7 linked regions of the Homo sapiens genome follow. The protein of the gene in region 2 purifies or fractionates together with the protein of the main gene of each other region. This does not show direct contact. Each region holds a gene or a part of one and is shown on either strand. Other genes may lie near its edges.

What was found.
Region 1: the proteins of RAB43 (region 2) and CRY1 purify together in Homo sapiens (affinity purification with mass spectrometry; one large-scale study listed by BioGRID and IntAct). This does not show direct contact.
Region 3: the proteins of RAB43 (region 2) and TRAPPC9 purify together in Homo sapiens (affinity purification with mass spectrometry; one large-scale study listed by BioGRID and IntAct). This does not show direct contact.
Region 4: the proteins of RAB43 (region 2) and TRAPPC6B purify together in Homo sapiens (affinity purification with mass spectrometry; one large-scale study listed by BioGRID and IntAct). This does not show direct contact.
Region 5: the proteins of RAB43 (region 2) and CLEC16A purify together in Homo sapiens (affinity purification with mass spectrometry; one large-scale study listed by BioGRID and IntAct). This does not show direct contact.
Region 6: the proteins of RAB43 (region 2) and TRAPPC11 purify together in Homo sapiens (affinity purification with mass spectrometry; one large-scale study listed by BioGRID and IntAct). This does not show direct contact.
Region 7: the proteins of RAB43 (region 2) and TRAPPC10 purify together in Homo sapiens (affinity purification with mass spectrometry; one large-scale study listed by BioGRID and IntAct). This does not show direct contact.

What each region holds. Positions count from the first base shown.
Region 1 is NC_000012.12:106,995,492-106,999,743, reverse strand, and holds part of CRY1 (cryptochrome-1), read left to right. Parts: coding exon 1-193; intron 194-1,677; coding exon 1,678-1,829; intron 1,830-2,053; coding exon 2,054-2,256; intron 2,257-2,357; coding exon 2,358-2,450; intron 2,451-4,252.
Region 2 is NC_000003.12:129,090,805-129,095,056, reverse strand, and holds part of RAB43 (ras-related protein Rab-43), read left to right. Parts: coding exon 1-71; intron 72-2,463; coding exon of another isoform or gene 2,464-2,543; exon of another isoform or gene 2,544-2,557; intron 2,558-3,710; coding exon 3,711-3,961; 3' UTR 3,962-4,252. Other genes in the region: ISY1-RAB43 protein, read left to right, coding at 1-32. UniProt on the Homo sapiens protein: The small GTPases Rab are key regulators of intracellular membrane trafficking, from the formation of transport vesicles to their fusion with membranes.
Region 3 is NC_000008.11:140,450,728-140,454,979, forward strand, and holds part of TRAPPC9 (trafficking protein particle complex subunit 9), read right to left. Parts: intron 657-4,252; coding exon of another isoform or gene 647-656; coding exon 63-646; intron 1-62. UniProt on the Homo sapiens protein: Functions as an activator of NF-kappa-B through increased phosphorylation of the IKK complex. May function in neuronal cells differentiation. May play a role in vesicular transport from endoplasmic reticulum to Golgi.
Region 4 is NC_000014.9:39,150,031-39,153,792, reverse strand, and holds part of TRAPPC6B (trafficking protein particle complex subunit 6B), read left to right. Parts: intron 1-1,953; coding exon 1,954-2,047; intron 2,048-3,411; coding exon 3,412-3,443; 3' UTR 3,444-3,762. UniProt on the Homo sapiens protein: Component of a transport protein particle (TRAPP) complex that may function in specific stages of inter-organelle traffic.
Region 5 is NC_000016.10:11,125,802-11,130,053, forward strand, and holds part of CLEC16A (protein CLEC16A), read left to right. Parts: intron 1-177; coding exon 178-345; coding exon of another isoform or gene 346-479; exon of another isoform or gene 480-543; intron 544-3,569; exon of another isoform or gene 3,570-3,697; intron 3,698-4,252. UniProt on the Homo sapiens protein: Regulator of mitophagy through the upstream regulation of the RNF41/NRDP1-PRKN pathway. Mitophagy is a selective form of autophagy necessary for mitochondrial quality control.
Region 6 is NC_000004.12:183,711,040-183,714,588, forward strand, and holds the end of TRAPPC11 (trafficking protein particle complex subunit 11), read left to right. Parts: intron 1-1,560; coding exon 1,561-1,605; 3' UTR 1,606-2,550; downstream 2,551-3,549. UniProt on the Homo sapiens protein: Involved in endoplasmic reticulum to Golgi apparatus trafficking at a very early stage.
Region 7 is NC_000021.9:44,098,712-44,102,963, forward strand, and holds part of TRAPPC10 (trafficking protein particle complex subunit 10), read left to right. Parts: exon of another isoform or gene 1-368; intron 369-385; coding exon of another isoform or gene 386-465; exon of another isoform or gene 466-1,355; intron 1,356-4,066; coding exon 4,067-4,252. UniProt on the Homo sapiens protein: Specific subunit of the TRAPP (transport protein particle) II complex, a highly conserved vesicle tethering complex that functions in late Golgi trafficking as a membrane tether.

The sequences.
Region 1 (4,252 bases), on a different chromosome or scaffold from region 2:
TGTTCAGATTCCTTGGGATAAAAATCCTGAGGCTTTAGCCAAATGGGCGGAAGGCCGGACAGGCTTTCCATGGATTGATGCCATCATGACACAGCTTCGTCAGGAGGGTTGGATTCATCATCTAGCCAGGCATGCAGTTGCTTGCTTCCTGACACGAGGGGACCTGTGGATTAGTTGGGAAGAAGGAATGAAGGTAAGTGTTCTAACTGATATAGCATGCCTTATTTTGAAGGAATCCTTACCTTAATAAAACAAATCCTAGAAGTTGTCTGTTTATAGATTCATTTATGGTGTAGTTTTTCAGTGGATAAAACATTTAATTCCCCAAATACGGGGACACTTTCAGAGAAAAATGGTATAATCAGACAAGCAAAAAGGTGAAAACTGGTTAAATTGATTAACCTAAAGTCATTTTAATGGTTAAACCAGCCTAGCCACTAAGAGAACTGTAAAATTTAACACTGAATTTGTTGATAGATATATTTATAGGTGATATTTCTATCACGAAAAGAATTCACTAAAGAGTTCCTAGAGATAGTGAATTCATATTATAAATTTTAAAATATAAATCATTTCACCTCACTTCTCAGCTTTTTAGTAATACTTCTATTATGTAAAGAGAAGCATACTACATTTTGTGACGACATCTTGTGGATTACACGTAATAAGACTTAGGTACTTTTTTTTTTTTTTTTTTTTTGAGACGGAGTCTCTCACTCTGTAGCCCAGGCCGGGGTGCAATGACGTGATCTCAGCTCACTGCAACCTACGCCTTCCAGGTTCAAGTGATTCTCCTGCCTCAACCTCCCGAGTAGCTGGGATTACAGGTGCCCACCACTGTGCCCAGCTAATTTTGCATTTTTAGTAGAGAGAGGGTTTTACCATATTGCCCAGGCTGGTCTTGAACTCCTGACCTCAAATGATCCCCCTGCCTCAGCCTCCCAAAGTGCTGGGATTACACGCATGAGCCACCGTGCCCGGCCATTACGTACATTTTTTACCTTTCTGGCAATACCATACATTTGCCCCATCCAAGGACCATTTCTGAGCTTGTGTGTGTGTGTGTGTGTGTGTGTGTGTGTGTTTAATCTCTTATATTTCCTAGTACACCGTTGTATACAAAGACAATATATAACATACTTAATGAATATATATAAAAATCATTTATTTTAATTCTATTTTCTTTCTGATCAAGGAATTCGAAATTAAACTATGTAATGCTAGTATATATTTTTAAGTGAATTTATATTTGAGTATGCTTCCTTTATTTAGGCTAGAATATGAAGCTAAGTTTTTGTTGGTGTTTTATGTAATAGCATTTTTGCTTTCTTGAAAGTGGTTGACTGCTTTTCCTGTGTCTACTAATAATATCCTTTTAAATCCACATCCTTTTAAATCAGTGATTTGAATATTTTTTTTACCTTCCATTCTCCCAGTAACACTGCAGAGGTTGGAAAAGTAAATTCTCTTCAGAAGCATACTATATTACCACTATGTTTCTTTCTCTGGAAGAGCTCATTATAGAACAGAACATAGGGAAGCTAACTTTGGAATGTTTAATTTTACAATTCTGTGCTAGATTTTCTTTGCCTTGACTTTGGCTCTACTGTGACCTTGAAAATGCTTGCTTTGCGAATTATGTGTGTGCAAACTAATTGGTTACTGTTACTTCTGAAGGTATTTGAAGAATTATTGCTTGATGCAGATTGGAGCATAAATGCTGGAAGTTGGATGTGGCTGTCTTGTAGTTCCTTTTTTCAACAGTTTTTTCACTGCTATTGCCCTGTTGGTTTTGGTAGGAGAACAGATCCCAATGGAGACTATATCAGGTAAATCAAGGGTGATTACTACTCAGTTTGGAATAGTTAATTCAAGAAGAGCTTTTCATGTTTAATCAATGCTTAAAGTATTCCCCACTCATGATGGGCAGCAGAGATGAGAAGGGTAAACAGATCATTTAAATGGTCTTGATTTGATTTTGGTCTGTCATAGCTAGTAGTTATAGTTTGCTTAGAGTGCATTTTATTAGTAATCTTTCTTTTTTCTCCCAAAGGCGTTATTTGCCTGTCCTAAGAGGCTTCCCTGCAAAATATATCTATGATCCCTGGAATGCACCAGAAGGTATCCAAAAGGTAGCCAAATGTTTGATAGGAGTTAATTATCCTAAACCAATGGTGAACCATGCTGAGGCAAGCCGTTTGAATATCGAAAGGATGAAACAGATCTATCAGCAGCTTTCACGATATAGAGGACTAGGTATGTTAAGAACTGTCTTTGTTTCTTTGGCAGCTGTTTATGTACTTATCTTTGAATTTTATCTTGATCATAATTTAAAAGAAAATTTTTTTGTCCTTTAGGTCTTCTGGCATCAGTACCTTCTAATCCTAATGGGAATGGAGGCTTCATGGGATATTCTGCAGAAAATATCCCAGGTTGTAGCAGCAGTGGAAGTAAGTGAAAAGGAAATTTCTGCACTTAGTAACATGAAGAGGTTATTAAACAAATATATTTGTTATTGATCCTCACTAACATATTTTATAAAAATCTGTCTTTGAAATTAGCTTAATAGATTCTTTGTATGCATGCATACATGTGCACCCAGACACATCTCTTCACTCCATTGATGACATTTTAGAGATGGAAAATATCATTACGTATAATAGATACTGGGTCAAGTTAAAGCTCTTGCAAACTGAGGAGAGCAATTTTAAGGATAAAATGAAACTCAAATGTCATATTTTCAGAATGCTTATTATTTTTTACTCCTTAGGTGTATGGCAACTATAAGGTAATTAGTTAAGAAAGTCAGTGGCCCTGTGAACATGGCCAAAAGATTTATTGTACACATGCATAGAGCCCTCTAGTCTTTTTGCACATAAGTTTTTCTTATAAAGTCTGGTCTGTAGTAGTTTTCTGTATGATACAAATTTAGTGACCATGTAAATTCTTATGTGTGATATTAATAATTTCAGGAACTCAGTATGTGTTAGAAATTTGAACCATCATATTAGTTTTTGGCTTTGACCAAAAATAGCATGAAGCTCAGTAATTTGATTAAAAAATAGGACAGCATCAGTGAGAATGGTGATTATTAAAAAGTCAAGAAACAACAGATGCTGGTGAGGATGCAGAGAAAAAGGAAGGCTTTTACATTGTTGATGGGATTGTAAATTAGTTCAACCATTGTGGAAGAGAGTGTGGTGATTCCTCAAAGATCTAGAAGCAGGAATACCATTTGACTGAGCAATCCCATTACTGGGTATATACCCAAAGGAATATAAATCATTCTGTTATAAAGATACATGCACACGTATGTTCATTGCAGCACTATTCACATTAGCAAAGACGTGGAATCAACCTAAATGCCAGTCGATGATAGACTAGATAAAGAAAATGTGGTACATATGTACCATGAAATACTATGCAGCCATAAAAAGGAACGAGATCATGTTCTTTGCAGGGACATGATGGAGCTTGTAGCCATTATCCTCAGCAAACTAAGGCAGGAACAGAAAACCAAACACCTCATGTTCTTGCTTGTAAGTGGAAGTAGAATGATGAGAACACATGGATACATGCGGAGAACAACACATACTGGGGCCAGGTGCAGTAGCTCACACTTGTAATCCCAGCACTTTGGGAGGCCGAGGTGGGTGGATCACCTGAGGTTGGGAGTTTGAGACCAGCCCCTGACCAACATGGAGAAACCCCCGTCTCTACTAAAAAGACAAAATTGGCCGGGCGTGGTAGCGCATGCCTGTAATCCCAGCTACTTGGGAGGCTGAGGCAGGAGAATCACTTGAACCCAGGAGGCAGAGGTTGTGGTGAGCTGAGATCGCGCCATTGCACTCCAGCCTGGATAACAAGAGCAAAACTCCATCTCAAAAACAAAAAACAACAAAACACACATGCTGGGGTCTGTTGGGGGGGCAGGGGCAGGGAGAGCATTAGGAAGAATAGCTAATGCATGCTGGTCTTAATACCTAGGTGATGGGTTGATCTGTGCAGCAAACCCCCATGGCACATGTTTGCCTATGTAACAAACCTGCACATCCTGCACATGTACCCCAGAACTTAAAATAAAAATTGAAGGGAAAAAAAAGAAAAAAGAAATCTATACATGTGATAAAAGAGCATAAAATCATACAAACACTTTGTATCAATGTCAATACCTGGTTATATTGTTGTACTGTAGTTTCATAAGATGTCACTAAGAAGATAGGGAAACAGGACCTCTTTGTACTAACTTTAC
Region 2 (4,252 bases):
CCTGTCGGTGCCTCACTGGATTGAGGATGTGAGGAAGTATGCGGGCTCCAACATTGTGCAGCTGCTGATCGGTGAGTTGGGGATTCCTCGGGACCACAAATCCCATCACTCTGCCTGTCCATGCCTCCCTCTGCTTTTTAAACACAGTGTAACCCTGAGTTCAGAGGGAGTCCCAGCCAGAGTTTGAGCCATGGTTTTGCAAATCCTGATCCTGCTAATCACTTAGAAAGTTACATTCAAGGCCGGGCACGGTGGCTCACGCCTGTAGTCCCAGCACTTTGGGAGGCTGAGGCGGGCGGATCACAAGGTCAGGAGATCGAGATCATCCTGGCTAACACAGTGAAACCTCGTCTCTACTAAAAAAATAAAAAAAAATTAGCCGGTTGTGGTGGCAGGCGCCTGTAGTCCCAGCTGCTGGGGAGGCTGAGGCAGGAGAATGGCATGAACCTGGGAGGCGGAGCTTGCAGTGAGCTGAGATCACGCCACTGCACTCCAACCTGGGTGACAGAGCAAGATTCGTCTCAAAAAAAAAAAAAAAAAAAAAAAAAAAAGAAAGTTATATTCAAAATTGGAATTAGAGGAAAGAAGAAAGAGAGCTGAAGTTTGCTCTGCTGTTCTTCACATGTGTCAAGATTTAGCTCTTGTACCCCGGCTTCTCCTCATTTGACAGGGGCTGGGGCTAGGCTCAGAAAAGTGCAGTGATTTATCCGGGTCCACATGGCCTGTGAGCATACACATGTAGGCTTTGAGTTTGCTTCTGCTGACCTCAAGTCTGTGGCTTTCTCTGTTGTGCCGCACACAGAGCAGGGACACTTGATGGCTTCCGTGCCTCAGAATCCCACAGAAGTCTTCTTCAAGTGCAGCTGCAGGGCCTCAACCTCCAGAGCATCTGATCCAGGCGGGCTGGGTGGGGCCCATGAATGTGCGTTTCTAACAAATTCCCAAGTGACACCCACCTTGCTGGTCCAAGGATCCCACTTTGAGAACTGCTGCTGTGGAAGGATGCTGTTTACCTTTGTTTTCCTTCTATATAACCTTCCCAGACCTGGACTGGAGAAGCTCTTTAGCTCTTATGTTATCCCTGGGGTCCTCACCCCAACAGGTTGATTCTTTTTTTTGAGACAGAGTCTTACTCAGTCACCCAGGCTGGAGTGCCGTGGCGTGATCTTGGTTCTGCAAGATCTGCAAAACCACTGCAACCTCTGTCTCCCTGGTTCAAGCGATTCTCCTGCTTCAGCCTCCCGAGTAGCTGGGCCAACAGGTTGATTCTTCTGACTCAAATGTACAGACAGGGCCTGGACCTGACTCCAGCCAGGAAGAGGGTGGTGCCTGGTTCCATGTGGCCTGCCTTCCACAGCCTGTTCAGACTAGGACATGGAGTGCTTGGCATGAACAGAGCTTTCCTCACGTAGCCTAACCATTTCCCCACCTTTTCTTGCTGGGGGTGGGGGACGGAGTCTCGCTCTGTCGCCAGGCTGGAGTGCAGTGGCACGATCTTGGCTTACTGCAACCTCCGCCTCCCGGGTTCAAGCAATTCTCCTGCCTCAGCCTCCTGAGTAGCTGGGACTACAGGCACGCACCACCACACCTGGCTAACTTTTGTATTTTTAGTAGAGACTGGGTTTCACCATGTTGGCCAGGATGGTCTCGATCTCCTGACCTCGTGATCCACCCGTCTCGACCTCTAAAAGTGCTGGGATTACAGGTGTGAGCCACCACACCCAGCCACCAATTCCCATTTATCCAGGACATTTCTGAAAAACATTCCAGCCTGGCATGGTGGCTCACACCTGTAATCCTAACACTGAGAGGCTGAGGTGGGTGGATTGCCTGAGTTCAGGAGTTCAAGACCAGCCTGGGCAACATGGTGAAACCCCATCTCTACTAAAAATACAAAAATTAGCCAGGCATGGTGGCACACACCTGTAATCCCAGCTACTGCGGAGGCCAAGGTAGGAGAATCGCTTGAACCTGGGAGGCGGAGATTGTAGTGAGCCGAGATCGTGCCACTGTCCTCCAGCCTATGCGACAGAGTAAGACTCTGTCTTCCAAAAAATAATTAATTAAAAAACATTCTATTATAGAACTTTTTTTTTTTTTTGAGACAGAGTCTCACCCTGTCGCCCAGACTGGAGTGCAGTGGCGCGATCTCGGCTCATGGCAAGCTCTGCCTCCTGGGTTCACACCATTCTCCTGCCTCAGCCTCCCGAGTAGCTGGGACCACAGGCGCCCGCCACCATGCCTGGCTAATTTTTTGTATTTTTAGTAGAGACGGGGTTTCACCATGTTAGCCAGGATGGTCTCGATTTCCTGACCTCGTGATCCACCCGCCTCAGCCTCCCAAAGTGCTGGGATTACAGGCGTGAGCCACCGCGCCCGGCCTATAGAACATTTTATACAGCTATGAAAATAGTATTTTATCTATTTATTTATGCATACTTATATACATACATATATTTTTAGAGATGCAGTCCTGCTATGTTGCCCAGGCTGATCTTGAACTCCTGGCCTCAAGCAATCCTCCTGCCTCAACCTCCAAGTAGTTGGAATTACAGGTGTGAGCCACTATATCTGGCTTAGAATAGTATAATAATGAGCCCCCAGGTACCCATTACCCTGCTTCAGCAATTAGCAACTGAAGTCCAACCTCCTCTCATCTGTACCATGTCACCTCCCCTCCCTCGGATTATTGAGACAAATTCACATCAAACCATTTCACCTGGCAGTATTCCAGCATGAACCTACAAAATATTTAAACACTTAAAAACAGCAATATTATTTTCTCATCTAAAAATACTGACATTTCCTTAATAATATAAAATAGCCAGTCTGTATTCAGATTTATAATTGCCCATAAAATTCATATGTGTTTTATTTTTTCCAGTTTGTTGAGATCAGGATCCAAATAAGTTTCACACTTTGAAACTGGTTGCTACATCAATTAAGGTTACCAAGGAAATTTTAGATCTTTACAGACTTTTTTTTTTTTTTTTTTTTTATGACGGAGTTTCGCTCTTGTTGCCCAGGCTGGAGTACAGTGGCACAATCTCGGCTCACTGCAACCTCCGCTTGCCACTCCTGCCTCAGGCACCCGAGTAGCTGGGATTACAGGCCCCCGCCACCACGCCTAGCTAATTTTTTGTATTTTTTTTAAGTAGAGACGGGGTTTCATCATGTTGGCCAGGCTGGTCTTGAACTTCCAACCTCAGGTGATCCACCCACCTCGGCCTTCCCAAATGCTGGGATTACAAGCATGAGCCACTGCGCTTGGCCCAGACTCTTTTTTTTTTTGTCTTCCTTATAACCACATTACAAAAGTCAACCATGTAGAGACTTTTAAAAAATTATTCTAGAAATTGGGTCAAGGAGCAATTTAACAGATTGTTTGGAATGTAATGAAGTCATCTCATACCATCTAGGAGGATCTGGGTAAATTGAGACGGGGTCTCACTGTGTTGCCCAGGCTGGTCTTGAATTCCTGGGCTCAAGCAGTCTTCCTGCCTTAGCTTCCCAAAGTGTTGGGATTACAGGCGTGAGCCACTGCACCCGGCCTAAAAAAGGTTTTTTAAAGAAAGACAGATGACCATGCCAGGGGTGTCCATTTATAGTGGTGGAAGGGAGTGGCATGGGGCTGTCAGCGTGACCCTCCCAGGTGGGACTGGGCTTGCCCAGCCCCCATGGCCTCATGCTGCCCCGGCTTTCCTCCGCAGGGAACAAGTCAGACCTCAGCGAGCTTCGGGAGGTCTCCTTGGCTGAGGCACAGAGCCTGGCTGAGCACTATGACATCCTGTGTGCCATTGAGACGTCTGCCAAGGACTCGAGCAACGTGGAGGAGGCCTTCCTGAGGGTGGCCACGGAGCTCATCATGCGGCACGGGGGCCCCTTGTTCAGCGAGAAGAGCCCCGACCACATCCAGCTGAACAGCAAGGACATCGGAGAAGGCTGGGGCTGCGGGTGCTGACCAGGGGCCGGGCCGGCAGACTGGGGGTTCCCCACCTCCTTGCTCTCCCCAGCCTGCCAAGCCCAGCCCTCCAGAGCCAGCCCTCCTGGGTACCGGCAACTACAGCAGCCGGGTGAAGCTCTGGAGCTCTGCATCCTGTGGCCTGGCTGCGGGATGGAGGCTCTCCTTGAGGAAGGGGAAGCAGGATACCCTGGCGGGCCACCCTGCCAGCCAGCAGCTGGCCCTCCACCATCTTCACATTCCAAGACTGGCCTGAACCCGCCGGTGTGGGCCACAGTAGGAGGGGCCAGC
Region 3 (4,252 bases), on a different chromosome or scaffold from region 2:
CCCTGTGCTTTCCCTTTCTGATGCAGGGAAGCCAAGGGGCCTGGGTCTCTAGGTAAGCTTACCTGCTGTCTGTGTCCAGTCCTACAAAGTCCTTTTTCTCAAACGGGACACAGAGAAGGGGGATCTTATCCCCAGACTTGTCTGTGGCTCTGTCCAGACGCTTGGACTCCAGCACGATGAACAGTGACTCGATGAAGTCCTCGATTCTCTTCTCCACCGTCTGGCAGTCCTCGTAGTTGGGGTAGAAAGCCACGTCGGTGCGCGGCTGCTCCACGATCTCCCCCTGCAGCCCGAAGACAAAGAGCCGGGAGTCATACAGTGTGGAGCCGTAGATCTCCTTCTGCACGTGGAACTTCTCAAAGGTCTGTGGCCAGTCCTTGGCCGAGAAGCAGTCTGTGATGGTGATGAGGCCCACGACTTTGCGGTGGGTCTGGAAGTCACCCCACTCGTTGTTCTCGGGTGGGTAGTGGTGCCTGTAGCGGATGTAGAGGACTCGCTGGGAGTCCCGCACGCTGATCTGACTCACAGAGCAAATCCTCTTATAGATCCTGAAGAAGTTCTCCTCGGAGACGATGCCCACAGGCTGGACCACCACGAGCAGCGTCTGGTGGTCCTCAGCACACTGCATGTAGTCAGGGACGCTCATTTTGAAGTCCCTGTTCAGAGAGAAGAAATGAGGCTGTGAGACACAGAGTCCTGAGTGCTGAGAGCCTACCCTGGGAGGCAGTGACTGTGACCTTCACTACCCAGAGGCAGGGGAAGCCCCAAGGAAAGCCGTGGCATCAACAGGTCTTAGGGCTCTACACGTGGCTGTCGCAGCTCTGATCATAATGCTGTAACTGTTGACCTTCAGTCCCTTGGCCTCAGCATGGAGCTTCTACAGAAATGGGGCTGTTTCTTGTCTTTCTATTCTCACCACCTAACCAGGAGTAGTAAGAGTCAGTGCTCAAAAATGTCTGTTGAGTGAATGAATAAACACGTGTGTAATTGCTCCCCCATCCCCTCAACAGGATATTAAGAAAAATCCACCATGCAATCACATCTGGATTTGAATTCCGGGCTCCCTGGAACTCCTCAGCTACAAAATAGTGGTGATAATAGAACTTGTCTTGGCCGGGCATGGTGGCTCATGCCTGTAATCCTAACACTTTGGAAGGCCGAAGCTGGCGGATCACTTGAGGTCAGGAATTCGAGACCAGCCTGGCCAACATGGTGAAACCCCACCTATACTAAAAATACAAAAATTAGCCGGGTGTGGTGGCACGTGCCTGTAATCCCAGTTACCCAGGAGGCTGAGGCAGGAAAATCACTGGAACCCGGGAGGTGAAAGCTGCAGTGAGCCAAGATTGCGCCACTGCACTCCAGCCTGGGTGACAGAGTGAGACTCCGTCTCAAAAAAAAAAAAAAAAGAGGCGGGGCGCAGTGGCTCACACCTGTAATCCCAGCACTTTGGGAAGCTGAGGCAGGCAGATCACAAGGTCAGAAGATCGAGATCATCCTGGCTAACATGGTGAAACCCCATCTTTACTAAAAATACAAAAAATTAGCCCGGCGTGGTGGCAGGCACCTGTAGTCCCAGCTACTTGGGAGGCTGAGGCAGGAGAATGGCATGAACCAGGGAGGCAGAGCTTGCAGTGAGCCCAGATGGCGCCACTGCACTCCAGCCTGGGCGACAGAGCCAGACTGCATCTCAAAAAAAAAAAAAAAAAAAAAGAATTAAAAGAAAAAGAACTTGCCTTATAAAACTGTATCTAGATTGAGGAGGTTGCGAATGTAAAGGGCCTAGCATTGTGCCTAACATAAAAGGAGAGATTACACAAATATACCACCTTTCCTTTATAAATGGGAGAGTTGCCATAACCTCTCTGAGCCAATTTTGTCAGATATAAAAAGAAAACGTTATTACCTGATTCCCCAGAGCTGGGGAAAAATTAAATTAGATGACCCACGTGAAAGAATCTGGCTCATAGGAGATCCTCAATACATGTTTGTTGAAGGGATTAGTGAACAAACAAACAAATGAACAATCCAATGAATGCTGCCCCCAGCCTACAGACGGTCATGATGGAAATCCCACTGCCTGGAAGTCAGGGCCGATATTCAACTCCCAGCTCTACACGCACGATCTGGGTGACCTGGAGCAAGCCTGTGTGCTTCCCTGAACCCTAGTTTCATTGTGAATAAAAATGAGGATAGTAACACATACCTCAAGGTGTCAGCAAGTCAACATTCTGGTTGTGATAACATACTGTGGTTTTGTAACATGGCACCACGGGGGGAAACTGGGCAAAAGGTATATAGGATCCCTCAGTATTATTTCTGACAAATGCACATGGAGCTACAACTACTATAGTCTCAAATAAAAAGTCTAATTTTTTTAAAGGTTAGGGAGATTAAATGAGCTCTCTGTATCAAATAAGAAAAAGATGCCTCGATACACACCTCCACTGTCCCCATCAGTGGGCTGACACTTCCTGAGGGGATTTGGCCATGGTCCCCATGGCCAGAGGCAGCTGTACCATGAGCTAATGGGGTTCAGCTTCAGGCCCCTTCCATGGCCCTCTATCTAATTTTGCATTTTTAATTTTGTTTTCTTTTTCTTAAATAGGAAGCCCAAAACTGCATAACCTTCAGGTCACCAAAGCCTGACTGCAGAGATCGTGGCAGTAAAACCCTCCCAGGTGACACTAAGATTAAAGTGACATTGCTATAAGACCTCTGTGAAATTCTAATGGCAAGCTTCTCACCTGCACGGAGAGGAGGAGGACTGTGTGTCGGGGGCTATCCTGGACATCACAACCCCACCTCTACAGACTTCAAAAATACACATGGATAGAGAAGTATGAACAAAATTAAATTTTAAAAAAAGGAAACCCTAGCCTCCCAACATGTCTTGCTTCTGCCCAGGATCTAAACGGTTCACAAGTATATTACATGTGTGTGACTCAGCCCAAGTCCCTGACTCCAGTGCTCACGCTCTCAAGGACGACGCCCCACTCTCTCCTGCCCTTTCCCCACAACGATTCCCTAAAGAGTCTTTTCTGCACACAAAAACCACCTTCGAAAGAACCAAAATCACATCACCTTCCAACAAAGAGGCATAAAACCCCTCGGAGGACATATCAAAATACTGAGCGGGGGAGACTGGAGCGCTCATGTTTCTCAAAAGTAGGCACAGGTTTAACAGAAGCTGAGAAACACCGAAGCCTTCATTCTACAGAGGAGGAGAGCGCGGCCCACCGCAGGTAACAAAGGGCCTTATTTTAGAAGTATCATCTCGGCCAGACACGGTGGCTCACACCTGTAATCCCAACACTTTGGGAGACAGAGGCGGGAGGATCACTTGAGGTCAGCAGTTAGAGACCAGCCTGGTCAACATGACAAAACCCCATCTCTATTAAAAATACAAAAATTAGCCAGGAGTGGTAGCACACACCCGCAGTCCCAGCTACTCCAGAGGCTGAGGCAGGAGAATTGCTTGAACTCAGGAGGTGGAGGAGGCAGTGAGCCAAGATCACAACACTGCACTCCAGCCTGGGTAACAGAGCGAGACTCCATCTCAAAAAAATTAATAAATAAAAATGATTTAAAAATAAAAACTATCGTCTCATCTAAAAAGCAGCATAATCAGCCGGGTGTGGTGGCTCACACCTGTAATCCCAGCACTTTGGGAGGCGGAGGCAGGCAGATCACTTGAGGTCAGGAGTTGGAGACCAGCCTGACCAACATGGAGAAACCCGGTCTCTAATAAAAATACAAAAAATTAGCCAGGCGTGGTGGCGCATGCCTGTGATCCCAGCTACTCAGGAGGCTGAGGCAGGAGAATCGCTTGAACCCAGGAGATGGGGGTTGCAGTGAGCCGAGATCACGCCACTGCACTCCAGCCTGGGCAATAAGAGTAAGACTCCCTCTCAAAAAAAAAAAAAAAAAAAACACAACCTGACCTCACACCTGTGATCTCAACACTTTGGGAGGCCAAGTCGAGTGGATCGCCTGAGGTCAGGAGTTCGAGACCAGCCTGGCCAACATGGCAAAACCCTTTCTCTACTAAAAATACAAAAATTAGCCAGGCTTGGTGGCATGCACCTATAATTCCAGCTACTTGGGAGGCTGAGGCACGGGAATCGCTTGAACCCAGGGAGGAGGAGGTTACAGTGAACTGAGATCACACCACTGCACTCCAGCCTGGGTGACAAAGTAAGACTCTTTAAAAAAAAAAAAAAAAAGACACCTGCCACTGAGCCAGTTCTGG
Region 4 (3,762 bases), on a different chromosome or scaffold from region 2:
GCAGAAGTTGCAGTGAGCTGAGATCGTGCTATCATTGCACTCCAGCCTGGGGTATAAGAGCAAAACTCCATCTCAAAAAAAAAAAAAAAGAAAAAAAAGAAACACTATAACTAAATGACAGTGAAATGTAGATGTATGGTAGATCACTTTTTTTTTTTTTTTAAGACAAGGTCTTGCTCTGTCATCTAGGCTGGAGTGTAGTGGTACAATCATGGCCTATCTTGACCTTGACCCCCCCGGGCTCAAGTGATCCTCCCACTTCAGTCACCCAAGGAGGTAGGACTGCAGGTGTGGGCCACCATGCCTGGCTAATTTTTAAAAAAATTTTTTAGAGATGGGATCCCACGATGTTGCCCAGGCTCGTCTTGAACTCCTGGGCTCAAGTGATCACCTCACCTCGGCCTCCCAGTGTGTTGGGATTACAGGTGTGAGCCACTGCATCCGGCCTGATTGCCTATTTTCTATATTTTTGGGGTATCCAGGCTCTAATTACATTTTTATGGTTAATGTGTATATTTTCTCTCTTTTTTTTTTTTTTCGGACAGAGTGTGAGACTCACTGCAACCTCTGCCTCCTGGGTTCAAGTGATTCTCCTGCCTCAGCCTCCTGAGTAGCTGGGATTACAGGTGTGCGCCACCATGCCTGGCTAATTTTTTGTATCTTTAGTAGAGACAGGGTTTCACCATGTTGGCGAGGCTAGTCTCAAACTCCTGACCTCGTGATCCACCCACCTCAGCCTCCCAAAGTGCTCGGATTACAGACGTGATTACAAAAGCCACCCAAAATGCTGGGATTACAGCCTCCCAAAGTGCTGGGATTACAGACGTGATTACAAAAGCCACCCAAAATGCTGGGATTACAGCCTCCCAAAGTGCTGGGATTATAGGCCATGCCTGGCATATTTTCTCTTTTTTACTAACTTCTTAGTTTAATATTTCTGGTTCTCACTTAACTTTTTGGGATCTTGGTTTCTTCAGCTGTGAAAAGAGTAAGTTGGACCAATTCAGTGATTTCTAACTATTTTGAGTTATGGACATCTTTGAGAACTGGAACACCTTTCCCCATAAATACGCACATATACATGGTTTTTATTTTCATAGGGGTCACAAATTCCCCGATTAAGAACTCTTGGGATGAACAATCTCTAAGGCCTCTTCCAGCTTAAAATTTCATGACTCAGATCTAGTTACTTATTAGTGCCCATTTATGTATATTATTTATAAGATAATATTTTATATTATTCGTAGATAATGTAGTATGTTGAACATCATGCAGTATAGATGTGGGTAATCAAAAATTCCCTGAATTGCTAATTTTTCAATCCAGTTCTTGTCATGACTTTTGGTTTTGTAGCTCAGCCCTATTCCCTTTCTTTGTTTCTATATGACAGGGTTTCTCAACGTCCAAACTGTTGATACTTTCAACCAGATAATTCTTTGTTGTGGCAAGCTATAAGTCTTGAACAAGTCAAGATTCTTGGTTGTAAATAGGGGAAAGAAATTCTGCTTGTAAGCTAACAAAATTGATAAGCTCAAAGAATAGGCAATAACCAGGGGAGGTTAAGGCAGCCAGTAAGATAGCCAAGTCACTCTGCAGACTGTATCTACTTAGAATCCTGCAGGCAGCAGGGACTGTAGACACAAACTACCTTTACTGCCTCCAGAACTAATTCTGATCAGTTTCTGGCTTGTTTTTGTCACTGAGTCTAGATTCACAGTCCTGGACTGGAGTACTTAATTGGCTGAGCTTAAGTCTTAAGTCCTACGTCCATGCTTTAGTTTCCAGGGAGCTGGGAAATATATCAATATTTTTCAGTAATTTGAACAGTTCTTCAAAATCCTTTTTTTAAACAGGAATGACTTACTGATGATAAATCATGTAATGTTGTATTTATCAATAGCTTTACTATTTTAGTAAATCCTTACTATTTTTAATGATTTTTTTTCCTTTTAGTATTTAGCATTTACGTGTGGCTTAATCAGAGGTGGCTTATCAAACTTGGGAATAAAAAGTATTGTAACAGCTGAAGTGTCTTCAATGCCTGCTTGTAAGTTGAATTCGCCTTTCTTACAAATGTTTTAGTAATTTGTTTTCAGGTCTGTTTTTTTTTTTAATTTAACTGAGAGGAAATTTAAAATGCTGAAACTTTCATTTTAGTTTTATCAATGTAACACTTTAGTGTAGTAATATGTAGCATACTACATTCATTTTCAGTAATTTTTGAATAATGGACTAAAATCCAAATTTATAAGACAATTTAAGGGATGATTTTTAACTTTTCTAAAGTTATTCAAACTGTAACTTTTTTAAAGATATTCTTCTGAATATCTCCTGCAGTGTTTTAAGATAGCAAATTTCCCTAGAACATTGAAAATGCTATTTTTTTTTTTTTTTTTTTTTTTTGAGACGGAGTCTCGCTCTGTTGCCCAGGCTGGAGTGCAGTGGCACAATCTCGGCTCACTGCAAGCTCCACCTCCCGGGTTCACGCCATTCTCCTGCCTCAACCTCCCGAGTAGCTGGGACTACAGTTGCCTGCCACCACGCCCAGCTAATTTTTTGTATTTTTAGTAGAGATGGGTTTCACCGTGTTAGCCAGGATGGTCTCCATCTCCTGACCTTGTGATCCGTCTGCCTCGGCCTCCCAAAGTGCTGGGATTACAGGCATGAACCACCGCGCCCGGCCCGAAAATGCTATTTTTAAACAATTGTTTAGGATATGTCTATTATATCAAGCTAAGTAAAACCAAATATTCTTTTATCACTAAATGTCTCCCTAAAGATCTTTTCACCAGAGCTACCAACCAAGAAAAAATGGACTTGAGCTTTATTGTATTTCTTTTCAATTTACAATGATCATTAGCCATGAAATACTGTACCCAAATGTAGGATTCATAAAGAGAAACAAAAGTGCTTACTCAACAAACCATATAATCATCCCATAAAAATAGAATTGACTGGCCGGGTGTGGTGCCTCACACCTGTAAGCTCAGCACTTTGGGAGGCCGAGGTGGGCGTATCATGAGGTCAGGAGTTTGAGACCAGCCTGGCCAATAAGGTGAAACCCTGTCTCTACTAAAAATACAAAAATTAGCTGGGCGTGGTGACAGACGCCTGTAGTCCCAGCTACTCAGGAGGCTGAGGCAGGAGAATCACTTGAACCCAGGAGGTGGAGGTTGCAGTGAGCAGAGATCGTGCCACTGCACTCCAGCCTGGGCAACAGAGCAAGACTCCATCTCAAAAAAAAAGAAAAAATAGAATTGACTTTATTGAATATTATGAAGAATGCGAAAAAGTTTTTGACATAGCAGATTTCTTGACTGAAACTATTTCCTATATGGAACAGAAAATTGATGTTTAGACTTGTTTTCTTTGTATCTAAAATCAAAGAATTATTTGTATTTTTTTTTTTAGGCAAATTTCAGGTGATGATACAGAAGCTGTAGAACATACTGAAATGCAAGGCTTCAACAGTGTAAAGAGATAAATTATTCATGTAAAAGTATTTCAAGTAGTGATGATTTAATTACATTGTTCGATGTTTGTACAGGAGTAAGCATGTATTTTTATCAATTTAACACAGATCAAAGGAGATGAAGGGACATTCTGCCATGACATACACTTAACCAAAACTATTCAAAATGAAAACCGGATTTCAAATAACCAGACACCAAGATGCAGGGCCCTTATTTTAAACCTTTTTATTTGGTTAGAGTGATATGTATTTAGCCATAGATGGAGAAACAAAGCTCAGGGTTTGTTGAA
Region 5 (4,252 bases), on a different chromosome or scaffold from region 2:
GGGAACTTTGATGTTCCACTGGTCTCTGCAGCTTGAGGCTGCCTGCCGCCCACTTGGCGTCTCCCAAGTGATGTGCCTGGCAGGGCCACAGCCACTACGATGTCCCCCCCCCCAAATTCTCACCACCCCCCTCTATCCCACATGCTCAGAGTGAACCATGCTATTGTTTGACCGTAGCCCTCCTGGACCTCCCAATCCAGCCCACCACTGAAGTCCTGGGGTTTGGACTCGGCTCCTCCACCTCCACTCAGCACCTGCCTTTCCGCTTCTACGACCAGGGGCGCCGGGGCAGCAGCGACCCCACAGTGCAGCGCTCCGTGTTTGCATCGGTGGACAAGGTGCCAGGTGAGCCAGCCCCCCGCCCTGCGCCACAGCTCGTTCATCATGGTGGGCGTTCAAGGTCTTTCTCTCTGTGGAGCCTGTGTGAGCTGCCCTTCCTCTCTCAGAAGCCCCGTCGGCTGGCAGCACCAGCTTCTTAGAATTTGTCAAAGCACAGCGCAAGATTAAACACAGCCCCCAAAATAAATTTTGGCTTTCCCTTTAGTGTTTGGTTTGGTTTTCCAGAGATTTGTTGGGTATGTGGAAGAACTTCTCAGAATTGACTAAGAATTTTCTTGGAAATTTCTTGGAAACATTTAAATGATTAGTGCTGAAGTTGTGGGAGAGTAATTTCCTTCTCCATGTAAGATGACTAGAAAGAGAGAGTGTGTTTGGTTCCGGTTACAACCCCCTGAAGAAGTGAGACTTCAAAAGAAGGCCGTGCTGCCCACAGGTCAGCTGTCCACTCCTTCCATATGAGGGCGTCTCCTCCCACTTTTGCCACAGCTCATCTCTAACCCTGCTCCTCCGCTCCTCCCAAAACAGAAACTTGAATGGAAAGTCCATTGCTGATTTGTCAGAGTGGAAAGGACCACTTCTCCAGAAGACCGAGTTCTCCCCTTCCTGTTCTGACATGTCTGCTTTAAGTAAATCCGTATGCACCCCGATCCCTCGAAAGAGAGCCTTTCTTTTGGTTGCAAAAGTTTAGAGCGCTGGCCAAGCTCTCCCTCACAACTTAACCCCTCCCCATATAGGGCTTCAAACTTAAGTTGCAAGTGTTGTGAAATGTTTTCAAAAGCAGTTATTGATTTAAGAACAAAACGCAGCCATAGGAACCTGCTCAAAACCCGAGTCCTGGTTCCCCCATGTGATTTATTTTAGTTTCATTGTTTGATAATTCATTATTTATATGTATATACCGTAGGCATATGATTTTTTAAAATCCAGACAGGAGATGATCAAATGAAAAATAAGTCTACTTTGCTTCAGAAGTAACTATTGTTAACAGTTTCTTGCCTGTCTTTCCAGAAATATTTCTTTGTATGTCATGCATATGTTTGTTTTTTACACATGGGGTATACCGTATGTCTGATGCTGCACCTTGCTACTTCTTCCTTAATAGAAAGTGTCACACATTAACACGTATAAATCAACCTAATTCTCCTTAACTGTTACATGGTATTTTGTCATATGGATGGGCAAAAAAATCTTTTTTGCTGTTTCGTATTTGGGTCATTTCCAGTGTTTTGCTCTTACAGTGTCACAGTGAGCATCCTTAGGGTGTCTTTGTGTAATTGTGCAAATTTCTCATGTCTGTGTGATAAATTCCTAGCAGTGAATTTGCCAAAGGGGAAGGTTTTTAATCTTGATATATGTAGTCCCAACGTGAACTCTAGAAAACAGTACACCAATTCACTCTGCCACCCACAGCTTGTGATTGGTTTCTTTCTTAAATCCAGTCTCAGGGCTGGGCATGGCGGCTCATGCCAGTAATCCTAGCACTTTGGGAGGCTAAGACAAGGCGGATTGCTTGAGCCCAGGAGTTTGAGACCAGCCTGGGCAACACAGTGAGACATCGTGTCTAGTATAAATAAAAAATTAGCCAGGCATGGTGGTGGGCACCTGTGGTCTCAGCTACACTCAGGAGGCTGAGGTGGGAGGGTCACTTGAGCCCAGGAGGTTGACGCTGCAGTGAGCTATGATTGTACCATTGCCCTCCAGCCTGGGCAACAGAGTGAGACCCTGTCTCAAAAAGAAAAGAAAAAAATAATCTTAGGCTGAGAGACTGATTGTGGCACCGCCTGTTTTCAGTGATGAAATGTGAGATGATTCTGCCTGTTTCAGGGTCAGGAGGATTCTTTGCTTAAAAAATTCTGCAGGTTGCTTCGTGTTCTGTGGCTATGATTGCTAAGTAAATATAAAGTGTGACTGAGTCTAAGTTAACTAAGTACAAATTGACCTGGTAAGAAATGACTTCTTTAGGGTCATTGAGGCGTCTTTCAGTTTCGGAACTTACTGGTTAAAGAGAAAAGCCCAGGCCTTATTTCTGTTCTGAGCCCTTTTGGAACAAGGTAGAATGTAAATAAATACATGGAGCCAAGCGGCCCATTCTTCAGCATCTACATGATCATTTCTCTGTTTGCAGAATGCTTTAGGATGACTTATTGCTTACCTCTTCTACCCTGCCTGGCCTTCCACCGGTGGGTGAGAACATCAAATGCCAGGAGTGTGGCCCGGCTCCAGAACCTGGGCCTGCCTGCCGGGGTGGTTGGCACAGCTGGGATGCCCCATGTCCTGTTGCTGGTCCCAGGGTCAGCAAGTGTGAGGCTGTGCCAACTGGGACAACAGCAAGTCAGAGGTGGCTGCTGAAGGCAGCATCCACCCCTTGGCTGTGTCTCCCCTGACTGCCCCTGGAAGTGCCACTCAGCTATGAGGAGTGAGATGGAGACATTCTTATTTATCACACCACCCCCGCAAAGAGGGAGGCCTCGCTGCCCTCCCACCTTGGCTTGGCACCAGAGCTGTGTCCTGAAGAGCAAGTTGAAATCCCTGAGCCTTGGCATGGTGGGAGCATAGGCTGCCCCCACCCCCATCTCAGTAGTCAGGGTCCCCCACAGCAGCAGCCACTCAGCACTTTGGAATCATTCTTAAAACTTTTCACCCTGCTTCCACACCCACCAGCCTGCTTGGCCTCCAGAAAATACTGAGATCCGAGATCTCCTCTCCCAGATCTCCCAAGATTGCAACAGAAGCCTTCTCAGGATCCCTAGCTTCCATTCAGCCAGTGGGATCATTCTAGTACTTAAATCAGATTACGTCATACCCCTGCCTCCAGCTTTTTGGTAGTTTCCTGTTGCACTTAGAACAAAATCCACATCTCTCCTTCTGATCTTGGGTGGTGGCTGTGAGATCCGGCCCCAACTGGCCTCTCAGATGAAGTTCCCCCAACCCCAAGCTCACTCTAGCCCCAACCCCAGCCTTGCCAGCCCCTGCTGCTCCTCTAAGCTAGCATTTCTCAGAGTTTTAGCCTCAGCACCCACGTGTTTATCTGCTTAAAAAGTATTACAGAACTTAAAGAGCTTTCATTTAGATAGATTATATTTATAGATATTTATGACATTAGAAATTAAAACTAAGAAATGCTTTCAATATATACTTCTTGAATAAACCCATTGCATATATGCATAACTAACATAGTTTTCTATGAACAATAACTCTGTTTTCCAAAACATAGAAAAAAATTGATCTTGCACATTTCTGCAAGTCTCTTTAATGCCTGGCTTAATAGAAGACATCTGGATTCTCCTCTTTGCTTCTGTTTTCTGTCTGTTGTGATAGCATGCATTCTGTGGCCTCTGGAAAACTCCTCAGTACACCCCTGGGAATATGAACATAAAAGAAAAATGTCTTACTATTTTTATGAAAACAAGGATTTCCAGACCACACTTTGAGACCCACTCCTGTAAATCACTGTGGCCTTCCCTGCCCCAGGGCCTTGCACTGGATGTCTGTACCCAGATGTTGGTGTAGCTGCCTCCCGCTAACGGCTCAGGCTTAGTTTGTGTGCCGCCTCTTCAGTGGCCTTTTCAGATCAGCTCCTGGCTAGGGTTGTCCCCTCCCGCCACTGCATTGGCCTGGTTCCTTTTTTTTTTTTTTTTTTGAGATGGAGTCTCTCTCTGTCGCCCAGGCTGGGGTGCAGTGGCACAGTCTTGGCTCACTGCAAGCTCCGCCTCCCGGGTTCACACCATTCTCCTGCCTCAGCCTCCCTAGTAGCTGGTACTACAGGCGCCCACCACCACGCCCGGTTAATTTTTTGTATTTTTAGTAGAGATGGGGTTTCACCGTGTTAGCCAGGATGGTCTCGATCTCCTGACATTGTGATCCGCCTGTCTCGGCCTCCCAAAGTGCTGGGATTACAGGCGTGAGCCACCGC
Region 6 (3,549 bases), on a different chromosome or scaffold from region 2:
AAATTGCCATTCTACAGTGTATATATAGTGTACATATTTCAAAACATCATGTTGTATACCGTAAATGTCTACAATTTTTTTTTTTACTTGTCACTCTAAGGACAGTGGCTGAGGATTACCCTTTCCCACTTATTGGACAATCACTGACTAAAATTTTAGGTCCTAGTGCACCTGTATTAAACTTTAGAGCTATGCTGTCCGGTATAGCCACTAGCCACATGTGACTATTGAGATTCAGTTTAAATTAAATTTGCTTAGTTACACTGCCACATTTCAAGTGCTCAATCGCTAAATGTGACTAGCGACTGCCATACCAGACAGTGACGTCCTAGGCAAGGATGAATCCATACTTTTCTTCCTTTGAATAAAAGGCTTTGGTTTTCTAATTGTATGATGCACTCATTTTTTGCTCTTGCTTGTAAAAGCTACATTTGGCAGGGATTTCACTAGCTTGAGCCATGATTTTGTTTCTAAAATTGAGCAGCTCCCATCAGTACTAAAAAAACAGTCAAGAATCAAGGATCGGGAACCTATTTCACTCACTCCATTCCTGCCGTGAATGTCTGGAAGCTATACTTAGCTATGTTTCTGTATGTATGTACACACACACTGCTATATACATCTGAACAACCACAGCAGCAGCAAACTGAAAGCAGGAGTGCTGTCTTCACTGCCTCGGGAATGCCTCAGAATCTTTCTGCTTAAAGCATAGCAAATCACTTTTGATTGTGAACACTCTTCTGTTTCATTTCCTGATCATCTTTCTCCTGCTTTCCCCACAAAGGTCTGCTATTGTATATCTGTATAATAAAATAAAATTATTTGTAAGAATTGTATTCTTTTAGCTACTAGCTATCCCTCTGGGATGTTGTTAACCTGCCAGAAATTTTACAACTAAAAACAGTTACGATACCTTTTATTCATTCTTAGTCTTGACTTTTCTGACGTGATGTTTTAAATTCTTTCAATCAGTGATCTTAGAGATAGGGCAGTTTTTGTTTTTATCTGCCACTTTTATCCTTGCAGCATGCATTGGAGTTCACTGCAGACACTTTTTCTCAAACAGGAGATTGGGCAACCTTGAGTCCCCAAAAGGAACTTACCTGTCAGCTCAGGCTCTGGACCTGCTTAAAGCTTGAGACACAGGAGGGCCCTGAGCAAGAGAGAGAGAATAAAACTATCAGTTAAGTAGGAATGATAAACAAGGTTCCATTCCACATGTGGGAGATGGCCTGGCAGTAGCTGCTGGAACGCAGGGTTGAGAGAGAAGTACTGACAGAAGAGGATTCTTCGGGTGGAAGTGCAGAGTCAGCTGGTGATGGCTACAGGAGAGGGCAGCTCCCAGCCTGTGCCGTGGCCATCCCCAGGTGCAAGTGAAGAAAGAAAGAGGTGGGGTGAAAGGAGGAGAATCACCATATCACCATTTTTATTTTGATGCTTACACTCATTTATTCTGTTTTTGTAAAACAGTTTCAAGAATTTAAAAATCCTTCCAGTTAATAGAGCTTTTGTTATTATATTATAATTTTGTAAACCCACTTTGTTTTTCCCACTTTAAAGCCACAGGGTCGACTCATGGATGATACCTCTATTGCTGCTGCATGATGTTCAAGACCGGCCCTTGGCTGTTGTTACAGAGATGTTGGGCAGAGCTATGCAGGTGTTTCATTGTGAACTCTAGCTTTGATCATGGTAAAAAGTTAACCTTTTCTATTTTTTAATGGATGTTATACCAACTATTCAGAGGAACTCATACTTCAAAAATATTAGGAAAATCTGTCTTATAGTTTCTCTAATAAATATCTGAAATCTCAGTACGACATGAAAGAATGTCAGACCATTGTTATTGTTGAAAGTCATTTGATGAATGGTAAATTCTATGAAAAGTAAGTGATTTGCATGTATAATATCAGGAAAATTAAGCATCCCAAGTGTGACTGGACAAAGAGAGCAGATGCACCAGTGCCTGTGCCATAAAGTTCCGAATCCCCCATGTGTCTCTTTCAGAGCTGGCCAGACCGGAAATAAATCATTCTCATAAATTCAGTGTGTACTCAGAACACATACACAACAACATAGGGAGTTGTATGACTGATACGGAAAACTTCCAGAAAGTTTTAATCAAAGCAGTTTAATTAAGGTATCAAAAATATCTTTGCTTACTATCAAGAAGTGTCAAATAGGTTCAGCTTGCTGCCAAAATATGGATCATTTATGAAGCAGGTTCATATTTTAGAGGTGTTAATAAAATCCTCATCGGAAAAGATCCAAAGTGCAAGGATTTGATTATAAACATAATTTCCTAGACTGAAAGTTTTTGGAAAAGATGCAGGGTCTGAGTCAGGCCTTCTGGTTATATTGTGCAGTTTCAAAAGAACTATTTAAAACTCTTGAAAACTCATGTAAATAAAAATCATAGGGTGAAAATTGTATTTGTTAAAATACCTTAATAATTTAAAATGACCTGATTTCCTGGAAAATTTTATTATTCAAAAGGTGGAGGCATTGTAAAAAGGAAATAGTGATGTAAATAAACATGTTCTCTTTCAAGTATGCTTGTCTGTCTCTATCTTTTATTTTGAGCTTGTTTGATTTCAGCTTCATGGAACAGCTTTTACTAAGAACACTGTTGCATGAGATGCAATGGCAAGCACAGGATTGAAAATTGGGCTGTGTTCTAGAACTGGCTCTGGTAACATTATGTGAGAGTTGGACAGTGCTATCTTGGGAGGACATGAGCTCCCTGTTGTAACATGGCTTTTCAGGTAGAGGCCATGGAGCATGACTCTAGAGTCCAGCTGTCTAGGATCAAATCCCTCCTCTGCTGCTTTTGTCTGGGTGACGTTGTTCAAGTTCCTTACCCTCTGTGTATCTCAGCGTTCTTGTATATAAGATGTAAATAACACCCATCTTATAGGCTTGTTATGAAGGATGATATAGATTCATACATGAGAAGAGCTTGGAACAGTGCCAGACCCAAAGTTATGTATGAGGGTGCTCAGCCAGTGTCATCTATATTTTTATGGGAAGGCTGAAGAGGGTATTCACTTTTCTACTGGAGAGTTCCATGTTATCAGAATTTGTTGATACATTTTACATAATTTACTACATATATGAGTATACATGTGTATGTAAATACGTGAAACTATAAACAAGTTTCATAGAAGAATGCATTCTGTGTACTCTTACATATTTTGTATCCTACTCTGTTTTGTTAAAAAACATCCCTGGTTATAAACCTGATGAATTGATTTCATGACCCACTAATAGGATGTAAAGTGCGGTTTGAAAAATACTGGACCAAGATCTTGAAGGTGCTGTTGAATTCTAAGATGGTCTGACGCAGTGCTTACATAATAAAGATCCCATGTGTTAACACTGCCATTGTCAAACGAAGTACATGTTTGAACAGTGGGTCACTGACATGCACTTTAAAATGATCAACATGGATGGCAGTGGGATTTGTGTACCTGTGCGCGCTTCTGTACGGATATCAAACAGGTCTTTTTCTTCTTGATCTTTCTTAGAGTTGGCAATAGAGTAAGCCTT
Region 7 (4,252 bases), on a different chromosome or scaffold from region 2:
GAGTTGTGCAGATCTTCCAAATGTGGGCACCTTTCGTTTGACAATATTTTTTTAAAATCTGCATTTGTGATCTCTCAGGGAGGGCTTGGAGCATCAGAACTCTTTCAAGCTCACAGTGGCAAGTGTAAGTTTTCCAAAATTCTGATTTTTGCTTAAAGTCTCAGATGGCATCATTGGCAGCAAATAGTCGTGTTGTTTTCTTTGAAGTGACAGGCTTACATCATTCATTTTTAATCAGACGTCTACCAAATACCCAACACTGAATAACTAGCTTCCCCAGCGCTCTTGCAAGTGAAAAGGGCGTTCTGTGAAAACAGCGGCTATTTCAGCTCGCAGCACCGAGCGCTCCCCGTGTGCTTTCCCTGAGCCAGCTGTCATTCTGCAGCAGAGACCCAGAGAATGTCAAGAACACAAGCACTCAAGAATGGAAATAACTCAAACGTCCTTCAGCTCGAGAGCGGTTAAACTGGCACATCTGATTCCTCCTCAGCAGTGAAACAGAAGGGACTGTTGACACACGCAGTGCTGTGGTTGGATCTCAAGGGCATTATACTAAGAGAAAAACGCCAGTCCTATAAGGAGGTGTACTGTGTGATTCCATTTCTAAATGACATCCTCAAAATGCCAGCCTCAGAAGGAGAGCGGGTCAGTGTTCCACGGAGCAGTGGGAGGCAGCAGGAGGCCGTCCTCTGTGGTAATGGAGAGTTCTGGGCCAGGGCCGCTGTGGTTGTTACACGAATCTACACATGTGACAAATGCCATAGAATTAGACCCAAAGAATGCCTGCGAAAGCTGCTGAAATCCAGTGGGGTCTGCAGCCTGGTTCACTCTGTAGTGAAATCCAGTGGGGTCTGCAGCCTGGTTCTATCTGTATTGAAATCCAGTGGGGTCTGCAGCCTGGTCCACTCTGTAGTGAAATCCAGTGTGGTCTGCAGCCTGGTTCTATCTGTATTGAAATCCAGTGGGGTCTGCAGCCTGGTCCACTCTGTAGTGAAATCCAGTGGGGTCTGCAGCCTGGTTCTAGCTGTATTGAAATCCAGTGGGGTCTGCAGCCTGGTCCACTCTGTAGTGAAATCCAGTGGGGTCTGCAGCCTGGTTCTATCTGTATTGAAATCCAGTGGGGTCTGCAGCCTGGTTCACTCTGTAGTGAAATCCAGTGGGGTCTGCAGCCTGGGTCACTGTATGGTACCAGTGTCAGCTTCCTGTGTTACACGAGATGGCACAGTTGGGTGAAGCTGGTGATGAAGGTATGTGACCCCTCTACTACTTTTACAACTTCTTGTGAGTCTATAAACATTTCACAATTAAAAAAAAGTCTACTCAGGAGCTGAATTTAATAAAATGAGCACTTTTGACTGCTTTGTGAAGCGTGGCATTTTTTTTTTTGTTTTTTTGCTGTGAGTTCATGGTAGTAAAGAACATGAGTGACATGACTGCGCAGTCTGGCCCGAGTTCATGCCATTGTGGTTGCCCCAGCAGCGCGAGGTCAGCAGCGTAGAAAGGCAGCAGTGTGAAAGCTATGAGCTTGCGGGTGCCCTGAGAGCCACACTCTGAGAACTGTCACTCCTTTGCCTTCCTCCTGACACTCCTAGGGCCTCTGCATGTCCTGTAGTAGCTCCTGTCCTCAAAGGTCCCCCATCCCCAACTACAGGATGTCCACCTCCCTGAGCCCTTCTCTGCTGCTCGTGGCCTTCTGGTCACTCACTCCCCCTGGGCGGTTGCTCGGTATCCTCATGATGGGAAGCTGTGACCTCTTTACCAGGTCTACTGCTACTGGATGGCAAGGATCCTGTCTTGCTTACTTTCATATCTCCAGGGCTAGTCCCAGTGAATGATCACTTAAGTGTTTGAATTGCATTGAATTACATGATGGTTGTGTTTTAATAATTAATGTTAATAATAACACCTGCCATATATTAAGACACTACCATGTCCCAGGAGTGGTACTAAGTGCTTTACATACAAGGGGTCTTCAAAAAAATCATGGAAGATACGTTATGAAAAAACTATGCATGGATTTCAACACTTTTTGCACCAAAATAAGCTCCTACTCACTGAGCAGGATCTAGTTTGAGGCACTAAGAAGGATAAGACATCAGTTTTAAAAGAGCCCCTATCAGAGCAACATGAATTCTGCTAAAATTAAATCAAGAACCAACATTGGCCGGGTGCAGTGGCTCACGCCTGTAATCCCAGCACTTTGGGGGGCTGAGGCAGGCGGATCACCTGAGGTCAGGAGTTCAAGATCAGCCTGGCTAATATGGCGAAACCCCATCTCTACTAAGAATACAAAAATTAGCTGGGCGTGGTGGCAGGCGCCTATAAGCCCAGCTACTTGGGAGGCTGAGGCAGGAGAATTGCCTGAACCCAGGAGGCGGAGGTTGCAGTGAGCCAAAATTGCGCCACTGCACTCCAGCCTGGGCAACGAGCAAAACTCCGCCTCAACAACAACAACAACAACAAAACAACCAACATCAAATTTATGGTGAAGCTTGGGTGGAAGAATGGTGAAATCATTGATGCTTTATGAAAAGTTTATGAAATTCTTTGGACAGTGCCCCAAAGAATTAGTAGTTTGCAAATGGATATCTTGTTTTAAGAAGGGACGAGATGATGCTGAAGATTAAGGCCATAGCAAGCAGACCATCCACATCCATTTTCAAGGAAAAAATTCACCTTGTTCATGCCCTAATTGGAGGGAACTGACAACAGCAGAAATGACAGCCAACACCGCAGACATCTGAACTGGTTCAGCTTATGCAATTACGCCTGAAGGGTGAGCAAGCGTTCCACTCAGTGGGTGCCAAAACCCTAGTACCCAGGTCCGTGGCCGACCAGAGCAGAGCTTCCCATGGAAACTTCAAACACACGGGATCAAGATCCTGAAGCATTTACTCAAAGAACCATAACAGGAGATGCAGTGTGGCCTTCCCAGTACCATCCTGAAGACAAAGCAGACACGGCAATGGCTACCAAGAGGTGGGGTGGCCCCACCAAAGCAGAAGCAGACTGGTCAAGAGCAGAGGCCACAGCAACAGGTTTTTGGGATACTCAAGGCATTTTGCTTGTTGACTTTCTGGAGAGTCAAAGGACAGCAGCGTCTGTGTATTATGAGATTGTTTTGAGGAAGATAGCAAGAGCTTTGGTAGAAAAACCCCTGGGGAAGCTTCACCAGAGAGTCCTCCTCCACCACGACAAAGCTCCTGCTCATTCCTCTAACAAGCCCAACTTCGTGAGGGTTTCTATGGGAAATCATGAGGCATCCACCTTGTGGACCTGATTCGGCTCCTTCTGACTGATTTTGGTTTCCTGATCTTAAGAAGTCTTTAAAAGGCACCCATTTTTATTCAGCTAATAATGTAGAGAAAGACTGCGTTGACATGGCTAAATTCTCAGGCCTCCCAGTTCTTCAGGGATGGACTAAATGGCATCGTAAGCAATGGCATCATTGCTTACAAACATGTCTTGACCTTGGTGGGGCTTATGTTGAGAAATAAAGCTTATATTTTCTGTTTTCATCTTTGGATTCCATTTTTGCATGAACTTTTTGTAGTTCCCTCATACGTATTCTCTTTCCATCCTTAAAAAGCAGCTCTGTGAGGCTGGTGGTGGTCTCAGCACTATACAGCGGTCATTGAGCCTGGAGGCCTTGGGGTGCTCTTCTGAGTGGCAGAGTTGGCTTCAGACCCAGTGGTCTTGGATACTGCCACTTACCAGACAGAACCCATTAACTGCCAAAGTCACCATACTGTGGAAGATGACACAAAAATTTGAAAACAAAATTAAATCATTTATTAACCTCACAGGAAAAATGCAGTTTTCTGTACACGTCCAGCATAATTCATTCTAATCCAGAACTAATTGAAATTGGACTCAATGAAATAGGGGTTGCCACCGTGAAAGTGCATGGCTTTATCTTCAGGCGCAGCTACAAGGCACTGGGCTCTGTGTCCGCAGTGTTTTGTCAGACAGCGTTGGGTGAGAGGATTGGGTAACGACGGCCGTGACTCTCGCCTGAGTACTGGAAGGCCCGTCCTGGATGACACATCGCTTCCTCTCGTTTCAGTTGTCGACAACAGTAGCAACTGGGCAGTGTGTGGGAAAAGCTGCGGTGTCATCTCCATGCCAGTGGCTGCTCGGGCCACTCACAGGGTCCACATGGAAGTGATGCCGCTCTTCGCCGGGTATCTCCCCCTGCCCGACGTCAGGCTGTTCAAGTACCTCCCCCATCATTCTGCACACTCCTCCCAAC